Linked DNA regions of Homo sapiens. The protein of the gene in region 1 interacts with the protein of each later gene in a pairwise test. Each region holds a gene or a part of one and is shown in the gene's direction. Other genes may lie near its edges.

Region 1 (3,500 bases):
ATATGGTGAAACCCCATCTGTACTAAAAATACAAAAATGCTGGGCGCTGTGGCGCATGTCTGTAATCCCAGCACTTTGGGAGGCCGAGGTGGGTGGATCACCTGATGTCAGGAGTCGAGACCAGCCTGGCCAACATGGCGAAATCTTGTCTCTACTAAAAATAACAAAATTTAGTTGGGCGTGGTGGGTGCCTATAATCCCAGTGACTCGGGAGGCGGAGGCAGAAAAATTGCTTGAAAATTGCTTGAACCCAGTAGGGGCAGAGGTTGCAGTGAGCCGAGATTGTGCCATTGCACTCCAGCCTGGGCAACAAGAGCGAAACTCCATCTCAAAAAAAAAAATGGTGTGGTGGCGCACGTACCTGTAGTCCCAGCTACCCAGGAGGCTGAGGCATGGGAATCGCTTGAACCCAGGAGGCAGAGGTTGCAGTGAGCCGAGATCGCACTATTCCACTCCAGCCTGGGCGACAGGGAGACTCCATCTCAAAAAGGGAAATCAGAGGCCGGGCACAGTGGCTCACGCCTGTAATCCCAGCACTTTGGGAGGCCAAGGCGGGCAGATCACCTGAGGTCAGGAGTTCGAGACCAGCCTCAATATGGAGAAACCCCGTCTCTACTGAAAAAATACAAAAAAATTAGCTAGGCGTTGGTGGTGCATGCCTGTAATCCCAGCTACTCGGGAGGCTGAGGCAGGAGAATTGCTTGAACCTGGGAGGCGGAGGTTGTGGTGAGCCAAGCGCACCGTTGCACTCTAGCCTGGGCAACAAGAGCAAAACACCGTCTCAAAAAAAAAAAAAAAAATGGAAATCAGAGGCCACCTTTCACATTTCTTCTTGGGACCCCTAGATCCTACTACCTTGGTTGATGGCACACATGGCAATTTTGTCTTACTTAGCACCTGAACAGGCCAGGCACTGGGCTAAGCATTGGAAAGGCTTTGTAAAGAAGACAAATGGCCAGACGCGGTGGCTTACACCTGTAATCCCAGCACTTTGGGAGGCTGAGGCGAGTGGATCACCTGAGGTCAGGAGTTCAAGACCAGCCTGGCCAACGTGATGAAACCCCATCTCTACTAAAAATACAAAAGTAAAAAAAAATTAGCCAGGCATGATGGCACACGCCTGTGGTCCCAGCTACTAGGGAGGCTGAGGCAGGAGAATCGCTTAAACCGGAACCCAGGAGGCAGGGGTTGCAGTGAGCAGAGATCACTCCACTATACTCCAGCCTGGGCGACAGAAAGAGACTCTGTCTCAAAAAAAAGACAAATATGGTCCTTGCCCCCCTGAAACTCAGTCTAGCGTAGAAGATGAGTATTGAATAAACCGTGCTATTGTGACAAGAAAATGCACACAGCACAACTAGTCTAGAGAGCTGGCAACAGCTTCCCTAAGGACATGCTGTAGAACTGAGCCCTAATGAATAAGGCAGAGAGATGGTGAGCAGAAGAAAATGCCTTTCTTTCTTTCTTTTTTTTTTTTTGAGACGGAGTTTCTTTCACTCTGTCACCCAGGCTGGAGTGTAGTGGCACAATCTCGGCTTACTGCAACTTCCACCTCCCGGGTTCAAGCGATTCTCCTGCCTCAGCCTCCTGAGTAGCTGGGATCACAGGTGCACACCACCATGCCTGGCTAATTTTTGTAATTTTAGTAGAGACAGAGTTTCACCATGTTGGGCAGACTGGTCTCGAACTCCTGACCTCAGGTGACCCACCCACCTCGGCCTTCCAAAGTGCTTGGATTACAGTCTTGAGCCACCGTGCCCGTCGAGAAAATGCCTATCTATCTAACAGAAAAGGGTGTTTCTGAAGGCCTGGGGGCAGGAGAAAGTTTTCCAGAGTAGAGAAGCTAATATAGAGAGGTAACGGGAGGAGAGTGGCTTGAGATAAGGCAGAGAAGGACCAGATATACTGACCATTAGGCCAGAGCAAGAATGGAAGAGTAGTGAGAAGTCACTGGAGACTTTTCAGGTTTTGTTATTTAGGTCTTTTGACTTTTTATTATGGAAAATTTGAAATTTATATATGAAGCATTGGAGAACTCTGAATTGCACCTCCCACTCCTCCAGCTTCTGTAGTTTTTATTTTGCCAGTCTTGTTTCACATCACCCGCTCCTGCTGCATTGTTGTAAGGCAAGTCTAGACATCTATCATTCCATCTGCAACTGCTTCAGTATGTATCTGTAGTATTTTAAAAGAAACCATGATAACATAGCTAGCAAAATTAGCAATAATTCCATACTATGATGTAATATCTAGGTTGTATTCCAATTTTTCAGTTGTTTGTTTGTTGTAGAAATGGAGTCTTGCTATGTTACCCAGGCTGGTCTTGAACTCCTGGGTTCAAGCGGTCCTCCCACCTCAGCCTCCCAAAGTGCTGAGATTACAGACGTGAGCCACTGCACCCTGCCCTAGTTGTCTCAAATAGGTATTTTTGCAATTGGTTTCTTCAAACAAAAGTTGAAAGAATAGTTAATGAACACCTGTATACCCTCCTCTGGCTTTAACAGATAGCATTTTGCCTTTTCTCTCTTTGTATGTATGTATTTATACAAGCACACTGTACATTTATTTTGTTGTAGCATTTGAAAGTAAGTTGTAGAAATTATGATACTTTGCCCCTAAATACTTCAGCATGTGTCTCCAAGAATGAGGATAACCACAGTTCTGTTTTTTCACCTAAGAACATTAATAGTAATTCCATCTAATTACTAAATGCCCAGGCCATATTCATGTTTCCCCAGTTACTCCATGGATGTCTTTATAGCTGGGTTTTTTCTTAACCGGGATCTAATCCAGTCATGTAGTACAAGGGGTTTTTAGGTAAAACCTAATGTAGTCAGGCTTTTAGTGTGGAGCAGTTCCTTCATGACATTTATTTTGCTTAGGTTTGGGTTTTTTTGTTTGTTTGAGACGGACTCTTGCTCTGTCGCCCAGGCTGGAGTGCAGTGGCACCATCTCAGCTCATTGCAGCCTCTGCGTCCCAGGTTCAAGCTATCCTACTGCCTCAGCCTCCCAAGTAGCTAGGATTACAGGCGTGAGCCACCACTCCTGGCTTATTTTTCTTAGTTTTTTAATACTCACATTCTGTATTTATCTGTTTCTTCTTAGTATCATTGAACTTGTATCTTATCCCCTGAACTTCCTATATACTGGAAGTTAGGTCTGGAGAGGTGTGATTGAGATGCAGGTTAAACATTTTTAGCAAGAATACTTCATAGGTGATGGTGCCTGGGCAGCTTTGAAAGTTTCCCTCTTTCTGTCATAATGAGATGGTCTAGGCCCATCTTTGTGTACTACTTCCTGCTTTACGCCTGGAGTCAGTCATTTTCCCAAGGAGTCCTGGTTGGTAGAAAATAAGAATCTACAGTCTGGATGCATTAAAAAAATTTTGTAAAGCTTGGATTGTCGGTCTCTTTAAAACAGCTCTCGTCACAGTGAGTTGAATAGATCGTAAAGGGGAAAAGTATACACAGAAAGGCTGGTTGTTGAACAAGGGGAGAGAT
Region 2 (3,500 bases), on another chromosome or scaffold:
AACTCCTGGCCTCAAGTGATCCGCCCGCCTCGGCCTCCCAAAGTGCTGGGATTATAGGTATGAGCCACCGCACACGGCCCCCTGCCCATTATTTTTATTTCAGAAAGTTTTCTGACTGGAACTATGACTGAAATACAGTTTGTTGTTGTAAAATCCAGTAATTATCTTTATTAAATACTCAGTAAAGTATTGTATGAACAACTCATTCTTTTCTCTCTCCAACAAGTCTGAAGCAAAATTTACAGTTTGTTGTTACTGCTTCATTGCCTCAGGCAGTTGGATTGGAGACCTGAGAGGCGAGCCGGACCATCCCGGATGCGCCATGAGCGAGTTGTCATCATCAAGAATATGTTTCATCCTATGGATTTTGAGGTAGGAAGTGGTGTGCTTACTGATAGAAATGCTGATAGGCTTTTTTTCTCTCAAGGGAGCCTGGAGCTTGCCTCGCCTCATCTTTGTCTTGTCACCTCCTACGTGTTTGTGCAGCGAGTAGTAAAGGAAGATGGAGCCAAGAAGCTACTTAAGTCTTTTGATTTCCCTTCCCTTTGTTTAGCCCAGTATTGTTTTAAAGTGTATCACAGATAAGACTGTTTAATAACCATACTGCGCCCCAAGCAGCAGCTACTTGGTATGGGAAACCATTGAAAAATATCATCATCAAAAGATTTATGGGAACTGCTTGTGGATTTTCAGTGCAAGCCAACAAGTATGGCCTGATTTTGGTGGGGAGTACCAGCTTCACAATTGTAAATGCAAACTTCAGTTTGGTACTAAAAGTTATAATATTTAATGTCCGTGGAAAATTCCAAGAACAGCAAGTAAAAGTGAATAAGTACATCTGTTATGTATCAACTTTTTTAAGTGATTTTAAAAAAAGTTAATGGAACTGTCCTTCCTCCCCTCAAAAAAGTGAATAAAGGAGAAGCAAAGAACAAGGAGTTCTGAGGAATATTGTCATCAAAGTACCTTGTGTTACATTCTGCCTGTATTCTTATCTCTGTCTACTGGTGTAGACTGACTTTATTGTTGTGGAGAAACAACTCTTTATTCTCTCCCTGGTTCTGAAATTAGTGATAGCAAGTTATACAGAAAGCAGGTTATACAGATAGCAAGTTATACAGAGAAAAATGTTCATAACGTAAAATTCCGTTTTTACCAATAATCTAGTTGTAAATTAGTGCCCATTCCTGACCCTTTTGTGCATTTAAACAGTCAAAATGGTAATATAATTGTAGCTCCCTTAGAGAGGGCCCCAAAATGGACAGTTCAGCTCTATCTCAATGAATAGTGTTGTGATAAGGTTTACTGTGTACCTATGGAGTTTGGGCATCTTTTGAGGTCATTGGAAATATACGTCTGGTTTATTTATGAGATTGATTGATATCTCTTCTGACTAGAAATCTGGAAGAATTTTGAAATATAACAGTTTACAGTTTTACAGTTGCAGTGATAATGAAGTATGGTTTATAAACACGTGCACACCAGATGCATTTTGAAATACTGTTTTTGCCAGCAATAACTTTAAAATGAATGCATAGAATTACAAAAATATTAGCTGGGCATGGTGGCGCATACCTGTAATCCCAGCTACTCAGGAGGCTGATTCAGGAGAATCACCTGAACCCGGTAGGCAGAGGTTATGGTAAGATCGCGCCACTGCACTCCAGCCTGGGCAACGGAGCGAGACTCCATCTCAAAACAAAACAAAATAAAACAAAACAAAGAACCAGATCATAGTCATTAAAGCAGCATATAAAATAAATGCACAGATTGATCACAATATTTAGTCTGCTAAATACAACTCCGGGATTTCCTATTATTTATTACATTTTATCCCCCTGCTAAATAAGTGATTTATTAGGTGACATATTTATTTCTGTGACTCGAGGTCTTTGATTCACACATTTCATACTCCTGCCACCCAAGTGTGAATGTAAATGCAAACCTAATTCAAACTATCTGGAACCTCTGCAAGTAGAAGTCTGTTGTGTAATTTTAATCTATTCTTGTTTCTACCTCCTGCCTTGCTCATTGAAATACCTTATTTGAGTCTAAGGATCACCCCAGGCAGACTTAGCTCTTCCCAGCTTAACAAATATTCTTTCCCCAAAACCACATTTATTCTACCTTGACCCCTATACATTCCCTCCAGTGAATATTTTTAAAGATAGAAGTTTCATGCTTGCAAATTCCTGATTTTTTTTTTAATCTTCTTGGTTTAGTATAAACATTACTTTGGAGTTACAGAGCCTTTATACTACCCTATTTTGTTTCCTTCATAGCATTTATTATTATCTGAAGTAATTTTGACTCGTCTACTAGAATGTGAGCTCCATGACACCCAGTATTTTGTCTACCTTGTTTGCTGCTGTATTCTCAGTACATAGAATTTGCCTGGCACACAGTTGGCCCTTAATATTTATGTGATGAAGAATTGAAAGAATTGCTAAATGAAACCCTTGTTATTTACAAGCCAGAGTCTTTTCATTCAGCCAGTGGATAAAACATTTTCTCTTCAGCATCTTTGCAAATGAAAGCAAATTTTCTTCTTAGATGCTTATTCCACAAAGGATGGTGGGACATTGTCTTGGCCGTGGCGGAATTAGTTCACAAAGAAATGCTTGGTGATGCTATCCTTGTTTGCCCACCTTCCTGGCCTCACATGGTCCAACTAGCTTGCTGAGAGCGTGTCAACAAGAAGAGTGACAAATAATCTTGCTTTTGTTCACTGTCTCTGAGCACCTGAACCTCAGTGTAGACCTGTGCTGTCAGATATGGTAGACTGTAGCCATGTGTGGTTAAATGTAAGTTAATTAAAATGAAATAAAATTCAGTTCATCGCTTCTACTAGGCACATGTAGCTAGTAGCTACCATATTGGATAATGCAGATATACAACATTTTCATTATCACAGAACCTTCTATTGGACAACACTGGTATAGACATTATATAACTTTTGATAGAAGTGTCCAACAGGAAAACCTGCTTTTATTGCATGTTTTGGGGGAGTGTTTGATTTGACTCAAGACTCCATATGAACCTAAAGAACACACAGCAGCATTGAGCTTTTTAGTGGAAAACAAAAACTGAATTGTCAGGTTATCCTGAGATATCTGAAAGGAGTCAGATTTTGGGTGGAGGGGTATATTTTGATTCCAAACAGTTAGAAGCAACATACCTAAGAATACTGTCTGATCTGAAGGCTAACATTTTTAATGTAACTTCAGAGGGTCTTCAGTATTTAATTCAAATCCTTACTTTAAAATGCATTGCCTGGCAAATTTGAATACCAGGACATGAAGAGTCAAAACTCAAATGCATTAGCCGGGCATGATAGCACGCACCTGTAATCCCAGCTACTTGGAAGGCTGAGGCACGAGGATCACTTGAATCCGGGAGGCAGAGGCTGCAGTGAGCCAAGATCGCGCCACTGCACTCCAGCCTGGGCAACAGAGTAAGACTCTGTCTTCAAAAAAAAAAAAGAAAGAAAGCAAAGCACT
Region 3 (3,500 bases), on another chromosome or scaffold:
GCCCCAGTGGGGGCTTGAGCAAGAGCCGGGAGCTCAACAGTGGCAACACCTCTGATTCAGGGAACTCCTTCACCACCTCCTCACCCCAGAACAAGGGGGCCATGTTGGAGAATCTCTCCCCCACCAGCAGGGGCAGAGAGTCAAGGTCAGTGCACCACACAGGGTCGGGGGTAGACGGTCTCCCACCTTAGCTCCACCTTCTCATGCTCTCATCCCAGCCTCCCCCACTCCACCCCCAAGATTATTTTATTTGTAAGAGAGATGAAACTCAACTCAGACTGGCTTGTTTTAAAACACTAGTGGCACTAGCTTCAGGTACAGCTGGATTCAGGGGTTCAAAAATATGTTGCTGGAAATCCGTCTTTCTCATTACATCTCTTATTCTGCTTCCTCATCCTACTGGCCTTATTCTCAAGCAGATCCTCCCAAAGCATTGTCAAATATGCCAAGCAGCTAACATTCTATTGGTTTAGCCAGCCAACAGGAAAACAATGCTTCTTTCTCAAAGATTTCAGCCAAACACCAAGGCAGGTGCTTATTGGTTCTGTTTGGCCCAGCTTAGGTCATCTGCCCATCACTGTCCCAGGGGATGCTATGCTGTTGGCCAGAATGTGTCAGATGCCATCACTAGGGCTAATGAGTCGAACCTTCCCACACTCCTCTACAGGAAAAGCCAGGTTATTGGTATCAGGAGAGATGGAGGCTAGGCAGGCAAAAAAACAGATGACAATTTTACCAGTAATCTTAGAAGGAAGTCGAACATTGACCAGGCGTGGTGGCTCACACCTGTAATCCCAGCACTTTGGGAGGCCGAGGCGGGTGGATCACCTGAGGTCAGGAGTTCGAGACCGGCGTGACCAACATGGAGAAACCCTGTCTCTACTAGAAATACAAAATTAGCCGGGTGTGGTGGTACATGCCTGTAATCCCAGCTACTCGGGAGGCTGAGGCAGGAAAATTGCTTGAACCCTGGAGGCGGAGGTGGCAGTGAGCTGAGATTGTACCATTGCACTCCAGCCTGGGCAACAAGAGTGAAACTCCATCTCAAAAGAAAAAAAAAATGAAAGAAAGTCTAACATTAAATTAATTGTAAGTCATTTAAGAACATATCACAGGCCAGGTGCGGTGGCTCACGCCTGTAATCCCAGCACTTTGGGAGGCCGAGGCGGGTGGATCACGAGGTCAGGAGATCGAGACCATCCTGGCTAACACAGTGAAACCCCGTCTCTACTAAAAATACAAAAATTTAGCCAGGCATAGTGGCGGGCGCCTGTAGTCCCAGCTACTTGGGAGGCTGAGGCAGGAGAATGGCATAAACCTGGGAGGTGGAGCTTGCAGTGAGCCGAGATTGCGCCAGTGCACTCCAGCCTGGGTGACAGAGCCAGACTCCATCTCAAAAAAAAAAAAGAACATATCACAGTATTTACCCAAATGAATTGAAAACTTATCTCTACATAAAAACCTGCACTTGGATGTTACAACAGCTTTATTTGTAATTGCTAAAACTTGGAAGCAACCAGAATATCCTTCAGTACGTGAATGAATACATAAATTATGATACGTCCAGACAATGGAATGCTATTCAGTGCTCGGAAGGTATGAGGTACCACGCTATGAAAAGACATGGAGGAAATGTAAATGCATATTACTAAGTGAAAGAAGCCAATGTGAAAAGGTCACACACTGCATGGCTCCAACTGTATGACATTCTGGAAAAGGCAAAACTATGGAGAAAGTACAAAGATAAGTGGTTGCCAGAGGGTGAGGGGACAGAGGGATGAATAGGCAGAGCACAGAGGATTTTTAGGGCAATGGAACTACTCTGTGTGACACTACAATGGTGGATAACTGTCATTATACATTTGTCCAAATCCATAGAATGTATAACACCAAGAGGGTACTCTGATGTAAACTATAGACTCTGGGTGATAATGATGTGTCAATGGAGGTTCATCGATTGTAGCAAATGGACCACGTTGGTGGAGGATGCTGATAGTGGGGAATAAGGCTGTGCGTGTGTAGCAGCAAGAAGTATATGGGAGCTCCCTGTGCTTTCCATTCAATCATGCTATGAAACTAAAACTGCTCTAAAAAATAAAGTTTATTAATTATAGATACAGATATACCATAGTATAATTTATCAACATATCAGAGAACATTGAGATTTCTCCATTTTTTTACCCATCTTAACACACTCACTAGATGCAGTTTTCCTGCAGAAAACTCTTCCACACAGATGCATATGAGCCAGTTGTAATTCTACTTCGTCATCCGCTTAACTCTCTCACTCAAGAAATCACAACAAAATGCTAATCACTGAGGTTACTGTCATCATAATAGCTACTAAAATTTACTGATCACTTAGTCTGTACCATTCATTCTGTTGTTTATTCCTCAACTTGTTTATCAGGCAAGTCCTCTCTGCCAGACACTCAGCCTGGTGCTGGGGATTTAAAAATGGAACAGTCCTTTTTCTCAGGAGCTTATAATTAATGAGGCAGATGCACAGTTGCGGGATGGGTGGAAAAGCTTTGCTGGTGCCCTCTGTCATGCTAACAGTGAGGTTTTTCTACTTCTGAGGGTGGGAGTTTGCCTTTGTTCCATATAGCCAAAATTTTCAAAAGATGACTAACGCCTTAGCACTGAAGCAGCTAACAGCTTCTTCAAAGACAGAGCACTCTTTGTCCCTAACACATACCCCATTTCAGTCCTGGACAAACAGCTTGACATCCACATGCAGAACTGCCTTCCCATTTGCCTGCCCCAGGTCATCCCTGGCCTCAGCTCACACCCAAGCTTGACTGAGAACCTGAGCTGGGCCAGAGCCAATGTCAGTGTCTCCAAGAACAGGCAGTGAAGTTCCCAGAAGGGAGGAGGAGGACACATGTTTACTGATATACAGCAGTGCTATTATGCAGGAAAAATTGAAATAGCAATAACAACAACAATAATAACGGCAGTTCATATTCGTTGAGCCCAAATCACATGCTAGGTACACTGCCAAATGCTTTCCAGAAATAATCTTCCCGAGCTCCTCAAAACCTTTATAGGACAGTACTATTTGTAACCCTTTTTTACCTGATGGGGAAACTGAGGCTCAGAGTGGTTGAGAAACTCAGTTAATAAGTGGCAGCACCAGAATTCAAATACAAATATGTCCCCCAAACAGGAACTAAAGCCTGAGAGACATCTAGCAGTTACCTGTTTAATTTGATCTCCATGGACAGCCAAATTAAGTAATTTAGACCCAGCCTTTCACTTTGAAATATAAATGATGGTTGAGTCCATGACTGTTTATGTCATGCCACTTATGAGCAGAGAGGGCTCAATAAATATGGGCTGAGTGGAAGAGACATCAGCTCTAAATCAAAGGAACCATAGACACTGAAGGTAGGGAGCTGGTGAGGTGGGAGGGGTGGGGACTCTGGAGCTGCACAGATCAAGGTTTGGGGCTCTGGGTGGTTTTGAGGAAATAACAAACCCTTCTGAGACTTCTCTGT

The links.
Region 2: the proteins of SRSF4 (region 1) and HTATSF1 interact in a two-hybrid assay, tested with the Homo sapiens proteins (one large-scale study listed by BioGRID and IntAct).
Region 3: the proteins of SRSF4 (region 1) and SRRM4 interact in a two-hybrid assay, tested with the Homo sapiens proteins (one large-scale study listed by BioGRID).

Annotation. Positions count from the first base shown.
Region 1 is NC_000001.11:29,150,901-29,154,400, reverse strand, and holds part of SRSF4 (serine/arginine-rich splicing factor 4), read left to right. Parts: intron 1-3,500. UniProt on the Homo sapiens protein: Plays a role in alternative splice site selection during pre-mRNA splicing. Represses the splicing of MAPT/Tau exon 10.
Region 2 is NC_000023.11:136,504,092-136,507,591, forward strand, and holds part of HTATSF1 (17S U2 SnRNP complex component HTATSF1), read left to right. Parts: intron 1-272; coding exon 273-372; intron 373-3,500. UniProt on the Homo sapiens protein: Component of the 17S U2 SnRNP complex of the spliceosome, a large ribonucleoprotein complex that removes introns from transcribed pre-mRNAs.
Region 3 is NC_000012.12:119,145,541-119,149,040, forward strand, and holds part of SRRM4 (serine/arginine repetitive matrix protein 4), read left to right. Parts: coding exon 1-145; intron 146-3,500. UniProt on the Homo sapiens protein: Splicing factor specifically required for neural cell differentiation.